Linked DNA regions of Homo sapiens. The protein of the gene in region 3 purifies or fractionates together with the protein of the main gene of each other region. This does not show direct contact. Each region holds a gene or a part of one and is shown on either strand. Other genes may lie near its edges.

Evidence for each region. The genes of interacting proteins can lie anywhere in the genome.
Region 1: the proteins of GC (region 3) and HPX purify together in Homo sapiens (affinity purification with mass spectrometry, with the first as the bait; one large-scale study listed by BioGRID). This does not show direct contact.
Region 2: the proteins of GC (region 3) and CP purify together in Homo sapiens (affinity purification with mass spectrometry, with the first as the bait; one large-scale study listed by BioGRID). This does not show direct contact.

The regions. Positions count from the first base shown.
Region 1 is NC_000011.10:6,434,488-6,438,796, reverse strand, and holds part of HPX (hemopexin precursor), read left to right. Parts: intron 1-287; coding exon 288-441; intron 442-1,144; coding exon 1,145-1,357; intron 1,358-1,619; coding exon 1,620-1,751; intron 1,752-4,309. UniProt on the Homo sapiens protein: Binds heme and transports it to the liver for breakdown and iron recovery, after which the free hemopexin returns to the circulation.
Region 2 is NC_000003.12:149,176,830-149,181,138, reverse strand, and holds part of CP (ceruloplasmin precursor), read left to right. Parts: intron 1-1,476; coding exon 1,477-1,583; intron 1,584-2,507; coding exon 2,508-2,724; intron 2,725-3,159; coding exon 3,160-3,299; intron 3,300-4,309. UniProt on the Homo sapiens protein: Multifunctional blue, copper-binding (6-7 atoms per molecule) glycoprotein. It has ferroxidase activity oxidizing Fe(2+) to Fe(3+) without releasing radical oxygen species. It is involved in iron transport across the cell membrane.
Region 3 is NC_000004.12:71,759,153-71,764,271, reverse strand, and holds part of GC (vitamin D-binding protein isoform 1 precursor), read left to right. Parts: intron 1-335; coding exon 336-468; intron 469-769; coding exon 770-864; intron 865-5,119. UniProt on the Homo sapiens protein: Involved in vitamin D transport and storage, scavenging of extracellular G-actin, enhancement of the chemotactic activity of C5 alpha for neutrophils in inflammation and macrophage activation.

The DNA of each region.
Region 1 (4,309 bases), on a different chromosome or scaffold from region 3:
GTTGTGGATATGTTTGTCAACACTGATAGTGTTGCAGATAAATGTGCCACAGGAGTGTCTGGGTACAGAGCTAGAGGCATGTGTGTTATAGTAATAGTGACTGGATTTGCACAAACTGAGAGTGTGTAATGTGCAAAAGGACAGCACATTGTTGTCCACAGATGGACTGAGAATGTGTAGGGCCACAGGAGGATATCGTATAAGCACAGTAGATAAAAAATGTGTGTAAATGCAGAGTGGCAGTATCTGGGGATGCACAGTCAAAAAGAGAGTACTTTTGAATGCAGGGGGACAAAGTCTGGGTATACCCTCCTGAAAAGAAGGAGAAAGGATACCCAAAGTTGCTCCAAGATGAATTTCCTGGAATCCCATCCCCACTGGATGCAGCTGTGGAATGTCACCGTGGAGAATGTCAAGCTGAAGGCGTCCTCTTCTTCCAAGGTCAGTCCAGGCTGGAATCCAAGAACCTGGAGTAGTGGTGGGTTGGTAGTGATGCCAGTAGTGATGGTGATAGTGGTAGTGATGGTGGTGGTGGAGCCACTATGTGGCTTTTTAAGGAAGGGAAATAGAGAAGCCACGTATGGTCTAGAGGTCACGTGAGGGAAGGAGAGGAAGTCATTCTGGTGAAGGCAACTGTGTGTAATTCTGTGTGAATAGTCCCTCATTGTTCCCCATGACCCTTAGGACAAATCTACCCTCTTTAGTCTTACATACAAGTCTCTCCATGGCCAAATCCCTATTGGCCCTTCAGCTTTGACTTTTATTATACTTTTACCTTAACACTAAGCTCCAGAAACCCTATGCTATTCTCTGTACACTCAGTTTGCTCCATGCTTTGGAATCTTTCCTCTCTCTGGGGTTCCATCTCTCCTTGTGTGCCTTTTAATTCCTACTTCAGATTTCACTTTAAGTATCATCTTCCCTGGGAAGTTTTCCCAGACTCTCCCCACTGCCTTTGCTGAGCTGATCCTGTGTGTTTTGCTGCTGAATTTTGGTGTATGATCACCCTCCTTTAGCCATCTCTCTGATGGCTGTGAGCTCCATGTGGTCAGTACCATTATCTGGCCCATCCTGGGACCCAGAGAAAGCACAAAGGAGGGCGTAACCCGGTCTCACCAAATGCCTGTTGATTGATTGGACAAAGGTGACCGCGAGTGGTTCTGGGACTTGGCTACGGGAACCATGAAGGAGCGTTCCTGGCCAGCTGTTGGGAACTGCTCCTCTGCCCTGAGATGGCTGGGCCGCTACTACTGCTTCCAGGGTAACCAATTCCTGCGCTTCGACCCTGTCAGGGGAGAGGTGCCTCCCAGGTACCCGCGGGATGTCCGAGACTACTTCATGCCCTGCCCTGGCAGAGGTGAGAAAGCCCTAGCACTTGAGACCTGTCAGAATTCATCCACTTTCCCTGAGCTTGTGGATCTCACGTGTCCTAGCTCTCACTTTAACTCCGTGTTGCGACACCTTGGCCCTTAATCTAGCCCCATTTCCATTCTGGATTTTCCCATTGCCCTCATATGGGGAAACCCACACCCCACTAACCCCAGCCATCTCTTCCACCTTGGACCTCACTCTGACCTCTGGCCTCCTTCTGTGTTCTCCTCACCCATTTCTCTCTCCAGGCCATGGACACAGGAATGGGACTGGCCATGGGAACAGTACCCACCATGGCCCTGAGTATATGCGCTGTAGCCCACATCTAGTCTTGTCTGCACTGACGTCTGACAACCATGGTGCCACCTATGCCTTCAGTGGTGAGAGATGCCCCCAACTCCCCCAATGTGCTCTCACATCTCTTTTACTTGTATCTCCCATCCTTGACACATTTCTCCATTGTCATCACTGTGTCACTTATTTTGTCCCCTCTGTCCCCATCCTTCTGCATGCCCTTCTGCATCCCTCATCTCTGAGGCATATTTCTCAATCTTGTCTGTCACGGCCCAAGCCCCTAACTTCATCTACCTGTCTACCATCTACTCCCATGGCTGTGCCCCCTGTGGACCTCTCTGGGCCCCTATGACTCCTTGTGTTCTCCTTGCTCAATGCCCTGCTGAGCCCTCTGGCTCTCCCTTGCTCCCTGGACCTCTATGTGTCTCTGTACCTCCTTGCCTCCCTTTGTTCTTGCATATCTTTCTGAGTCCTCTGGCTCCCCCTGATTTATCCTCAGAACTCCATCTTGTTTCAGGTTCCTGGTTCCTATGTCCAGACCCCTGGGCATAGCACTGCCTGGGGATGAGATGTTCTCATTGCTGAGAACCAGCTGAGAAGTGTTGGGTACTTTAGACCTTTAGAGGCTGGCTTCACTAGCCTCTGGAGGTTTCTCCTCTGAGTAGCCAATGGAGATACCCCTCCCTTGACCCGTGGCATCAATTGGTAAAAGCCATCTAATAATACCTAGGGCTGTTCTGAGTTCAGTCAGGCAGTAAATAGTCATGCTGCACAGTTGAGAATATCCCCAAGAGGAGTGAGCAACCACATCACATCCAACCTGAGATATATGTATAATTAGGACAGTGGTAAGAATATAAAATCGTGAAAATATTTTTTTCACACAAAATTTTTTTGGCTCCTGACCCTTGGACAAATTTGACCAGTTATGACTATCAAGTTCTGTTGAAAAATACATCACCACATGGAGAGCAAATCTCCACAGCAGGATTGCACACTATAATAAGAACATACAGCTAAGATGAAACACACACCTGTAGTGAAAATACAACATTAAACTGAGAACATACGCCATAGTAAGAACACATAAGTATCAAGAGAACACACAGCCATGGTGGGAGCCCATTGGGAGGACACACAGACAAAGTGAAATGCAGAAAGAGAGAGAGAGTGAGTGAGAGATTGTGAAAACAGGGCCACAGGAAACACACAGAAATAGAGAGAGACACCAAGCCATCTAGAGATCACAGAACTTCAAGGCCATGTGGCCATAATGAGAATGCTACTGAACTCCTAAATGAAAAATGTCATGTATGTTCCATAGCTGTTGAGAGAGCCCACAGCATGGAGAGAACACCTTATATTAAAAATACCCAGGCCGGGCGTGGTGAGTCACGCCTGTAATCCTAGCACTTTGGGAGGCTGAGGCAGGTGGATTGCTTGAGCGGCTTGAGCCTAGGAGTTTGAGACCAGCCTGGGCAACATGGCAAAACCTCATCTCTACAAAAAATATAAAAATTAGTCGGGTGTGGTAGTGCGTTCCTATAGTCCCATCTACTTCAGAGGCTGAGCCCGGAAGGTCGAGGCTTCAGTGAGCCGTGATCGTGCTACTGCACTCCAGCCTGGGTGACAGAGTGAGACCATGTCTCAAAAAAAACAAAAACAAAAAACAAAACAAAACAAACAAACAAACAAAAAACCCATATATATATATATATACCTAGCTGAGGTGAGAATGCACTATTTTGGTAAAATCACCAACATGACCCAGCTACAGCATGGGGCAGTCCCTCCCCTCTCACTGGTAAATTTTTCTTTCTCTGACTCACAGTTTTGTTGTTGTTGTTGCTGTTGTTTGAGATGGAGTCTCACTCTGTCACCCAGGCTGGAGTGCAATGGCGCAATCTTGGTTCACTGCAACCTCTGCCTCCTGGGTTCAAGCGATCCTCCTGCCTCAGCCTCCCGTATAGCTGGGACTACAGGCGCATACCACCATGCCTGGCTAATTTTTGTATTTTTTTTTGGGTTACAATGTACTATTTATTAATTTAATTTTTGTATTTTTAGTAGAGATAGGGTTTCACCATGTTGGCCAGGCTGGTCTCGAACTCCTGACCTCAGGTGATCCGCCTGCCTCGGCCTCCCAAAGTGCTAGGATTACAGGCATGAGCAACCACGCCTGGCCCCTCATAGGTTTTTATCTATTCTCTTTGCTTCTTCACAACTTTGGCTTGCACGTGGACCATCATGTTCTCTCCACTTTCTCACTACTTCATGATCTTTCAGTCTCAGTTCCAACTGATACCTCCCTCAGTTGCTCTTTTTTCCTAGTAAGATTTCCAGAGAGGGAATCTGAATGGCCCAGTCCATATTTTCAGACCACACCACATTAAAGTGGTTGATTGCCAGCCTATGTATTGGCTACATTAATGGGTTGGGAACTCATCATTTACTTCATTGCACAAAGCAGCATAGCTCTGGTTCTCAAAATAGGGCCCCTGGGCCAGGTGTGGTGGCTCATGCCTATAATCCCAACACTGTGGGAGGCCGAGGGGGGCAGATCACTTGAGTCCAGGAGTTCTAGACCAGCCTGGGCAACATGGTGAAATCTCATCTCTACTAAAAATACAAAAAATTAGCCAGG
Region 2 (4,309 bases), on a different chromosome or scaffold from region 3:
CTGATGGACACCTTTTAAGGGGCTGTTGGTGATGTGTGGTTAAGTGACCCTAAGGGGGCAAGGACAGAATCTGGGGTCAGTTAAGGACCACTGCAATAATCTGGGTAAAATCATCATCATCATCATCATCATCGAGATTTGGAATATGGTGGAAGCGGCTGAAGTGGTGAGATGTTATCATATTCTGGTTCCATTTTAAAGGTGGTACTAAAAGGACCTGCTGGAAAATGGGCACTAGGGAGTGTTAGGGAAGAGAGGAGTCAAGCATGACCCCAAGGTTTTGGGCACTGACCACTGGTGGAAGAGCAGGTTGTAAAGGGGTGTGGAAAAGAGAAGAAAATGTTATTTTGCAGCTTATGAGAATAAGTAAAAGCAGAGATGGCCAGACAGTAATATGTGCAGGTGGTGAATCAATACTTTATATTCTAGTGAAATTTTCTGCTTAGAAAAAGGGTGAGGACATAGGAACAGCTCAGACTGAGGCTTGAAGAAAAAGTAAGACGTCTACCACATCACTTGAGACCATCTCTGTTGTCTTGCTTGATTCTCTAGTGAATGTCTGTTGGACTCTGGCAGGTTAGTGTGATAGCATGAATATGTAATGGTGTGGTCTAAATAAATGGGATGGAAAATGAGTGTGGCTGGGATTGGTGAGTGGGCATGGCCAAAAGTTGAGGCCTGTGAGCAGTTGCACAGGAAGCCCTGAGGTGAATGGAAACGCAGATCAGACTGGAGAAAAGCCTAGAGCACATGGGAAAAGGGTAAGAGCCTTGGCAAAGCAGGAGGGTGAAGCAACTGGTCGTCTTCAAAATGCCAAGGCCGAGGGTGTGGTTATGTCCTGTATGTGGGAGTAGTGACAAAACAGCACATGGTGTGATAGAATGAGATGGACTGGAGGGGGAGGTAAACATAACTGTGTCAAGTCGGTGACTCATGAGATCAAGAGGTCTAACGGCTCCTCGCCAGGAATCATGAGCTCACTAAGGATGATCATGAGAGAGGACAAGGAAAGGAAGCCAATGCTGAAGCTGAGGGAATTACACAAAATAGTCCAGATACACACATGCAGAGATTACGGGAAAGGTGCCAGCCACTGGGGAAAAATCACTTGGTATCTGAAGAGAAAAAAGTATATTAGGAAAACACACTTCAAGCTAAGAAGAGATTGGTTGCAAAGTTTTTTCAAATTGTAATATTGAAGTACACACCTCCTAGCTTTGTGGTATGGCAAGTGGGTTATAGCTAATTTAAAATTAACCCAAAAAATGACAAAATTTTGTCTTCCAGTTCATCTTAAAACTAAATTCCTGAAAACAATCTTGAGTACCACAATTTTTAAAAACTAATTACACTGACATTTCCAGTTCCTGGGTCCTAGTTATCAAGGCTGTGTGTGTGTGTGTGTGTGTGTGTGTGTGTGTGTGTGTACAATATAAACCAAATACAACCAGATCCATTAACACTTGATGAATTTAGGTGAAACTCTCACTTACGTATGGAAAATCCCAGAAAGATCTGGAGCTGGAACAGAGGATTCTGCTTGTATTCCATGGGCTTATTATTCAACTGTGGATCAAGTTAAGGTAAAATACAAATCATTTGTTTTGTGACACTTCCCAAAATAGACACACAATTGAAGGAAGACAAGGTTAGTGTTTTCCTGTGGTCCAATTCTACGTTAAAATCCTAGGAAAATAAACTGTTTGCAATCTACTTTAGCAACTATGCTGCTACCTATGACACACAAGACAAAAATCTAACATTTCCTAATATGATACAGCTCAAAGGCCTTTCAAGATATTTGGGAAGTTTAGATTTTTGTCTTGTGGGTCACAGGTAGCCACTGAAAAATTGACCAAGAATGGCAGTATATTTGCATTTCAGATCCTTCATTCTGGTGGAATGAAGGAAGGCTTGGAGGGGGAAGAGACTGGAGGTTGGGAGGCCGTTGTAATACGTGAGGCAAATTTCAAGGACCTCTACTGTAAGGAGGGAGAAAAGAAATGGAGTCGGTTATAGATAGGTGGGTGAAGTGCCTGAGTGAGCCGGGGGAAGTAGCTCCTTGATAATTCAGTGTTCTGGCTCAAACAAATGAGTAAATCTGGTATTTGTGGTCCTATTTATTATTACACATTTCATTCATCTATGGATTTTTAGGGACTGCCATAGCGCTTGGCTCACACTCAAGAGTTCATGAGTTTATGGAACAAACCAACACTGTTCATTTGGGATTCTTTTAAAATCACTGCTCATTAGCTGAGCTAATTTTTGCCTCTGCAGACATTTCTGTTATGTCAGCATCACCCACATGACCTACCTACTACTCACCATTGTTCCAATTTAACTACTTCAAGTGAAAAGTTACTAAATTGGCAGTACCACATTGGGCAAAGTCTGTTACTTCAATTGGTCTCTCCAAAATTCCTGAGGCCCTGGGTGCAAAGTCTCAGTTCTCTGAAATCCTGACCTAATTCACAAGGGTTACTGAAGATTTTTCTTGTTTCCAGGACCTCTACAGTGGATTAATTGGCCCCCTGATTGTTTGTCGAAGACCTTACTTGAAAGTATTCAATCCCAGAAGGAAACTGGAATTTGCCCTTCTGTTTCTAGTTTTTGATGAGAATGAATCTTGGTACTTAGATGACAACATCAAAACATACTCTGATCACCCCGAGAAAGTAAACAAAGATGATGAGGAATTCATAGAAAGCAATAAAATGCATGGTATGTCACATTATTCTAAAACAATTTTTCTACTTTTTTATCATTTTCTCTTTCAAATAAAATTATTTTGGAGACCATTCATTTGTTTTGTCTTAAAATAAACCACTTCTGCCTCACTTTGTATGTCAGGTAGAATCCTGTTCAAAACAAAAAGGGGACTATGTTCAAAATCATTTGCTAATTTATTTTCCAATTCCAAAATCTCATTTCCTTTGAAATAATCCAAAACTAAGATTAAGGCTTTTGGTGCAAAGTGCCTAGAAAAGCAATGTGATATTATTGACTTTAAAGTATCCATTTCTCTCATTTGTAGTAAAATAAGTCCTATTACATCAAAAAGATTCTTTACATTAACCTAATAATCATATTTTCTTTGAAATAGCTATTGGTTTAAAATATCCTGAAAAGTAACATAAAACCATATGCTTTCCCTAGCTATTAATGGAAGAATGTTTGGAAACCTACAAGGCCTCACAATGCACGTGGGAGATGAAGTCAACTGGTATCTGATGGGAATGGGCAATGAAATAGACTTACACACTGTACATTTTCACGGCCATAGCTTCCAATACAAGGTAAGAGCTATCCATGGCAATTACTCTTGCTCTGTTTGAAAATGTTTTAATACAAGTGAAGAAAATATTTTCTCAGAGAGACTTATGAAAAAAAGCTGCAAAGAGTACAGCCGGTGCTTCATATCCGTGGATTCCCCACCCAGGATTCAATCATGGATTGAAAATATTCAGGAAAAAATAATTCCACTAAGTTCCAAAAAGCAAAACTTGGATCTGCTGCACTGAGTACTATGTTGAATCCATGCAAATGAAATGATATGTAGGCACTGTATTAGGTATTATAATAATCTAGAGATGATTTAAAGTATATGGAAGGATGTGCATAAGTTAAATGGAAATATGCCATTTTATATAAGGGACTTGAGCATCCATGGATTTTGGTATGGGGGCATTCCTGAAACCAATCCTCCATAGATACTGAGGGATGCCTATATAAGGCACAGCAATTTCAATTGACACACTAGCCTTTGTTACACATTGAGCTCTTCCTAGGATTTGCATTTTTAACTGAATTTTCATGGAGTTCTGCTCAGATTCCTGATTAAGGCAACTGAGCGGAATTGCTAACAAAGAGGGTAGGAATGTTCACATAATGATGGATGAGAGTAGAGACCACAACAAGACTTTATTATAACCCTTGCCCTGCCTGTTCTAAGTTCTGTATCTTAAATGGCCCATGGTGAGCAAGATCAGTTAGGTGACAAGCAACTGGTCTGTACATCTCAATCTTACTTCTATTCTTTCTCAGTACTGATTTCAGCAGAAGCCAGTGGCCCTCCTGGAAATGCTTTTTCCTTATGCTTTGGGCTAATTTAGAAAAGGCAGAAGTTATCAAAAAGCATACTGCAGAAAGCCTGTTTTGTTACCTGCATTTTGTTTTACATAGATATATTGTATTCTTAGTGGGCTTTCAATTCTATCCTTGCAGAAATAGACTATTGTCACCCAACTACTGTTTCCAGCCGAGACTCCCTGAAGTGCCTCTGGTTTTTGTCGTTTTCATCAGCCTC
Region 3 (5,119 bases):
GGTGGCTCACATCTGTAATCCTAGCACTTTGAGAGGCTGAGGTCGGAGGATCACTTGAGCCCAGGAGTTCAAGACCAACCTGGGACAATTAGTGAGACCTAATTTATACAAGAAATTAAAAAATTAGATGAGCATGGTGGCATGCACCTGTAGTCCCAGCTACTCAGGAAGCTGAAGCAGGAGGATCGCTTGAGGCCAGGAGGTTGAGACTGCAGTGAGCTATGATTATACCATGTACTCCAGCCTAGATGACAGGGCAAGACACTGTCTCAAATAAAAAAGTAGATTTTGTTTATTCACAAATTTTTTGACCAATTCTATTTTTTCCTCCACAGATTTATGTGGGAATATTCCACTAATTACGGACAAGCTCCTCTGTCACTTTTAGTCAGTTACACCAAGAGTTATCTTTCTATGGTAGGGTCCTGCTGTACCTCTGCAAGCCCAACTGTATGCTTTTTGAAAGAGGTATGTCCCATTTTACTTATTATATGTTTACGTTTTTTTCTTCTAATAGCATTCCTTTTAGATAATGGTAGAAATTGAGATTTTGCAATCAGTAAAAGTTTCTAAAATGCCACCCTTGCATCTTCTTAATTGGAAAATAAATGTAATACCTCTGGAAAAGTAATATCAATAAGTTCCTTTCACCAGTGTTCAGTTTCCTATTCATTAAAAAATCATGAAATTAATAGTCCCTATTTTTGCCATTTATACAGTATTCAATGAGTCTTGACCATATAATGAGATTCTTTCACTTGTTTTCTAGAGACTCCAGCTTAAACATTTATCACTTCTCACCACTCTGTCAAATAGAGTCTGCTCACAATATGCTGCTTATGGGGAGAAGAAATCAAGGCTCAGGTAAAGATTAAGTGCTATTGTCATATTTAGATGTTTGGTTCTGCACTGTCTATCCATAATATTAGGGTTTTTTTAAGAAGCTGTCTATATTGAAAGATATAAAATAGACTTTTCAGCTCCAATAATCTCCAAAAATCTGGCCAAATTCTCGTTTTCTTTTCTCTATACAGATTATGAAAAATAAGGAAAAAGTTTATGTCATAAAACATGAGATTTGCTTTTAATCAATCTTTTCCATATAGTTGACCACTAGAAAATATTTTTTCAGTGTTCATATTAGCATATGTTACAAACAAAAAAGCAAAACAAGAACAAAAACAAACCAAAAAAACACAACCTTTTGTTTATTACCTATTATTTGCCTTGCCCAATTTTTCTTGGAATGAGACATCTGAATTCTTACTTGTTGTATGAAGACTTGTGCTATACAGTATATATCTCTTGCCCTTCATTAATTTATTCTCATTAGTTATCTACCTTTGTATTAGTCTATTTTCACTCCGCTGATAAAGACATACCCGAAACTGGGGAATTTACAAAAGCAAGAGGTTTAATTGGACTAACAGTTCCACATGGCTGGGGAGGCCTCACAATCATGGTGGAAGGCAAGGAGGAGCAAGTCACATCTTACGTGGATGGCAGCAGGCAAAGAGAGAGCTTGTGCAGAGAAACTCCTGTTTTTAAAACGATCAGATCTCATGAAACTCATTCACTATCATGAGAACAGCACAGGAAAGACCCACCCCAATAATTTAATCACCTTCCACTGGTTTCTTCCTATGACATGTGGAAATTGTGGGAGTTATAATTCAAGATGAGATTTGTGTGGGGACACAGCCAAACCATATCATCCCACCCCTGGCACTTCCCAAATCTCATGTCCTCACATTTCAAAACTAATTATGCCTTCCCAACAGTCCCCCAAAGTCTTAACTCACTTCAGCATTAACTCAAAAGTCCACAGTACAATGTCTCATCCAAGACAAGGCAAGTCCCTTCTGCCTATGAGCCTGTAAAATCAAAAGCAAGCTAGTTACTTCCTAGATACAATGGGGGTACAGGCATTGGGTAAATGCAGCCATTAAAAATGGGAAAAATTGGCCAAAACAAAGGGGCTACAGGCCCCATGCAAGTTCAAAATCCAGTGGGGCAGTCAAATCTTAAAGGTCCAAAATGATCGCCTTTGACTCCATGTCTCATATCCAGCTCACGTTGCTGCAACAGGCATATTCCCATGGTCTTGGGCAGCTCCACCTCTGTGGCTTTGCAGGGTACAGCCTCCCTCCCAGCTGCTTTCAAAGGCTGTCATTGAGCATCTGTGGCTTTTCCAGGTGCACAGTGCAAGCTGTCAGTAGATCTACCATTCTGGGGTCTGGAGAACGGTGGCCCTCTTCTCATAGCTCCATAAGGCAGTGCCCCAGTAGGGACTCTATTTGGAGGTTCCACACCCACATTTCCCTTCTGCACTGCCATAGCAGAGGTTCTCCATGAGAGCCCTGCCCCTGCAGCAAACCTCTGCCTGGACATCCAAGTGTTTCCATACATCCTCTGAAATCTAGGTGGAAGTTCCCAAAACCCAATTCTTGACTTCTGTGCATCCGCAGGCTCAACACCACATGAAAGCTGTCAAGGCTTGAGGCTTACACTCTCTGAAGCCATGCCCCAAGCTCTACATTGGCCCCTTTCAGCCATGGTTGGAGCAGCTGGAATGCAGGGCACCAAATACCTAGACTGCACACAGCACGGGAACCCTGAGCCTGGTCCAAGAAACCACTTTTTCCTCCTAGGTCTCCAGGCCTGTGATGGGATGGGCTGCTGTGAAGACTTCTGACATGTCTTGGATACATTTTCCCCCATTGTATTGGGGATTAACATTCAGCTCCTTGTTACTTATGCAAATTTCTATAGCCAGCTTGAATTTCTCCTCAGAAAAAGGGCTTTTCTTTTCTCTCACATTGTCTGGCTGCAAATTTTCTGAACTTTTATGCTCTGCTTCCCTTTTGAAACTGAATGCCTTTAACAGCACTCAATTCACCTCTTGAATGCTTTGCTGCTTAGAAATTCCTTCTGCCAGATATCCTAAATTATTTTCCTCAAGTTCAAAGTTCCACAGATCTTCAGGGCCGGGGCAAAATGTCACCAGTCTCTTTGCTAATACATAACAAGAGTCACCTTTGCTCCAGTTCCCAAAAAGCTCCTCATTTCCATCTGAGACCACCTTAGCCTGGACCTTATTGTCCATATCGCTATTAGCATTTTGGGCAAAGCCATTCAACAAGTCTCTAGGAAGTTTCAAACTTTCCCACATTTTCCTGTCTTCTTCTGAGCCCTCCAAACTGTTCCAACCTCTGCCTGTTACCCAGTTCCAAAGTCACTTCCACATTTTCGGGTATCTTTTCAGCAGCACCGCACTCCTGGTACAAATTTACTGTATTAATCTGTTTTCATGCTGCTGATAAAGACATACCTGAGACTGGGCAATTTACAAAGAAAGAGGTTTAATTGGACTCACAGTTTCACATGGCTAGGGAGGCCTCACAATCATGGTGGAAGGCAAGGAGGAGCAAATCATATCTTACATGGATGGTCGCAGGCAAAGAGAGAGCTTGTGCAGAGAAACTCCTGTTTTCAAAACTATCAGATCTTGTGAGACTCATTCACTGTCACGGGAACAGCTCAGGAAAGACCCACCCCCATGATTCAATCACCTCCCACCAGGTTTCTCCCACCACCTGTGGGAATTGTGTAAGTTACAATTGAAGATGAGATTTGTGTGGGGACATAGCCAAACCATATCAACCTTATATTTGCAACCTTCACTTTGATTTTTGTATGACTACTGTTAACTTGTATTTTAATTTTGATAGTTTCTATGCTGCACTTCTCTCATACTTTCTCAAACATCTAGATTTGCCAACTTTTTTTCCCTCCATACTTACAGTCTCTTTGATTCCTTCTACTATCCTCACAAGTTTTTTTCCTCTAATGATAATCAAAGAACTTCTTGCCAGCAATGCATAATAAGCTTCCGTAATGGGAATAGAAACTACTTTCTTGTCCAGGCACGGTGGCTCACACCTGTAATCCCAGCACTTTGGGAGGCCAAAGCAGGTGGTTCACAAGGTCAGGAGATCGAGATCATCCTGGCTAACACGATGAAACCCCGTCTCTACTAAAAATACAAAAAAAAAAAAAAATTAGCCAGGCATGGTGGTGGGCGCCTATAGTCCCAGCTACTCAGGAGGCTGAGGCAGGAGAATGGCATGAACCTGGGAGGCAGAGCTTGCAGTAAGCCAAGATTGCACCACTGCCCTCCAGCCTGGGGCGACAGAGCGAGACTCCGTCTCAAAAAAAAAAAAAAAAAAACTAGTTTCTTTAAATATAACAGTTCCTCAGAACTACTTGAATACTCAATGACAGTTTCTCTAGTCCTTTCTTTAGTTTTCCTTTTACGTAGAGATAGTAGTTTGACAGGCAGAACAGAGGGAATTTCTAATATAAAGCCACCATATATATTACTTATATAATCATTAAGTGATACTTGTATTCATGTCCAGAAATGTACTTCAAGGAAATAGCATTTGCTATGAACAGATTTAGCTATCTGATAAGGGTTTAATATTCGGAATATATAAGGAACTTCTATAAGTCAATAACAAAAAAACAAGTAGCTTAATTAAAATAGGGGTAAAAGACTTGAATAAACAATTATTGAAACAAAATATACTAATGTCCAATAAACATATGAAAAGATGCTCAACGTCACTAACCTTAAGATACATGCAAATCAAGTCTACCGCCATACCACTCTGAACACGCCCAATCTTGTCTGATCTCAGAAGCTAAGCAGGGTCAGGCCTAGTTAGTATAATAATTGGATGGGGGAAATGCAAACCATAACTACAGTGAGGTATCACCTTATACCCATTAGGATAATCACTATCAAAAGAACAGAAATTGGCAAATGTTAGCAAAGTTGCATAGAAATTGGAACGCTTGTACACTGTTGGTAGGAATGTAAAGTGGTTCAATCATTATGGAAAACAGTATGGAAGTCCCTCAAAACATTAAAAATAGAATTAACATGTAATCCATCAATTCCACTTCTGGGTATATATCTTAAAAATTCAAAGTGGGATCTCAAAGAGATTTGCACTTCCATGTTCACTGCAGAATTATTCACAATAACCAAGAGGTGGAAGCAACCCATATGTCCATCAACAGATGAATGGATGAAGACAATGTGGTATATACA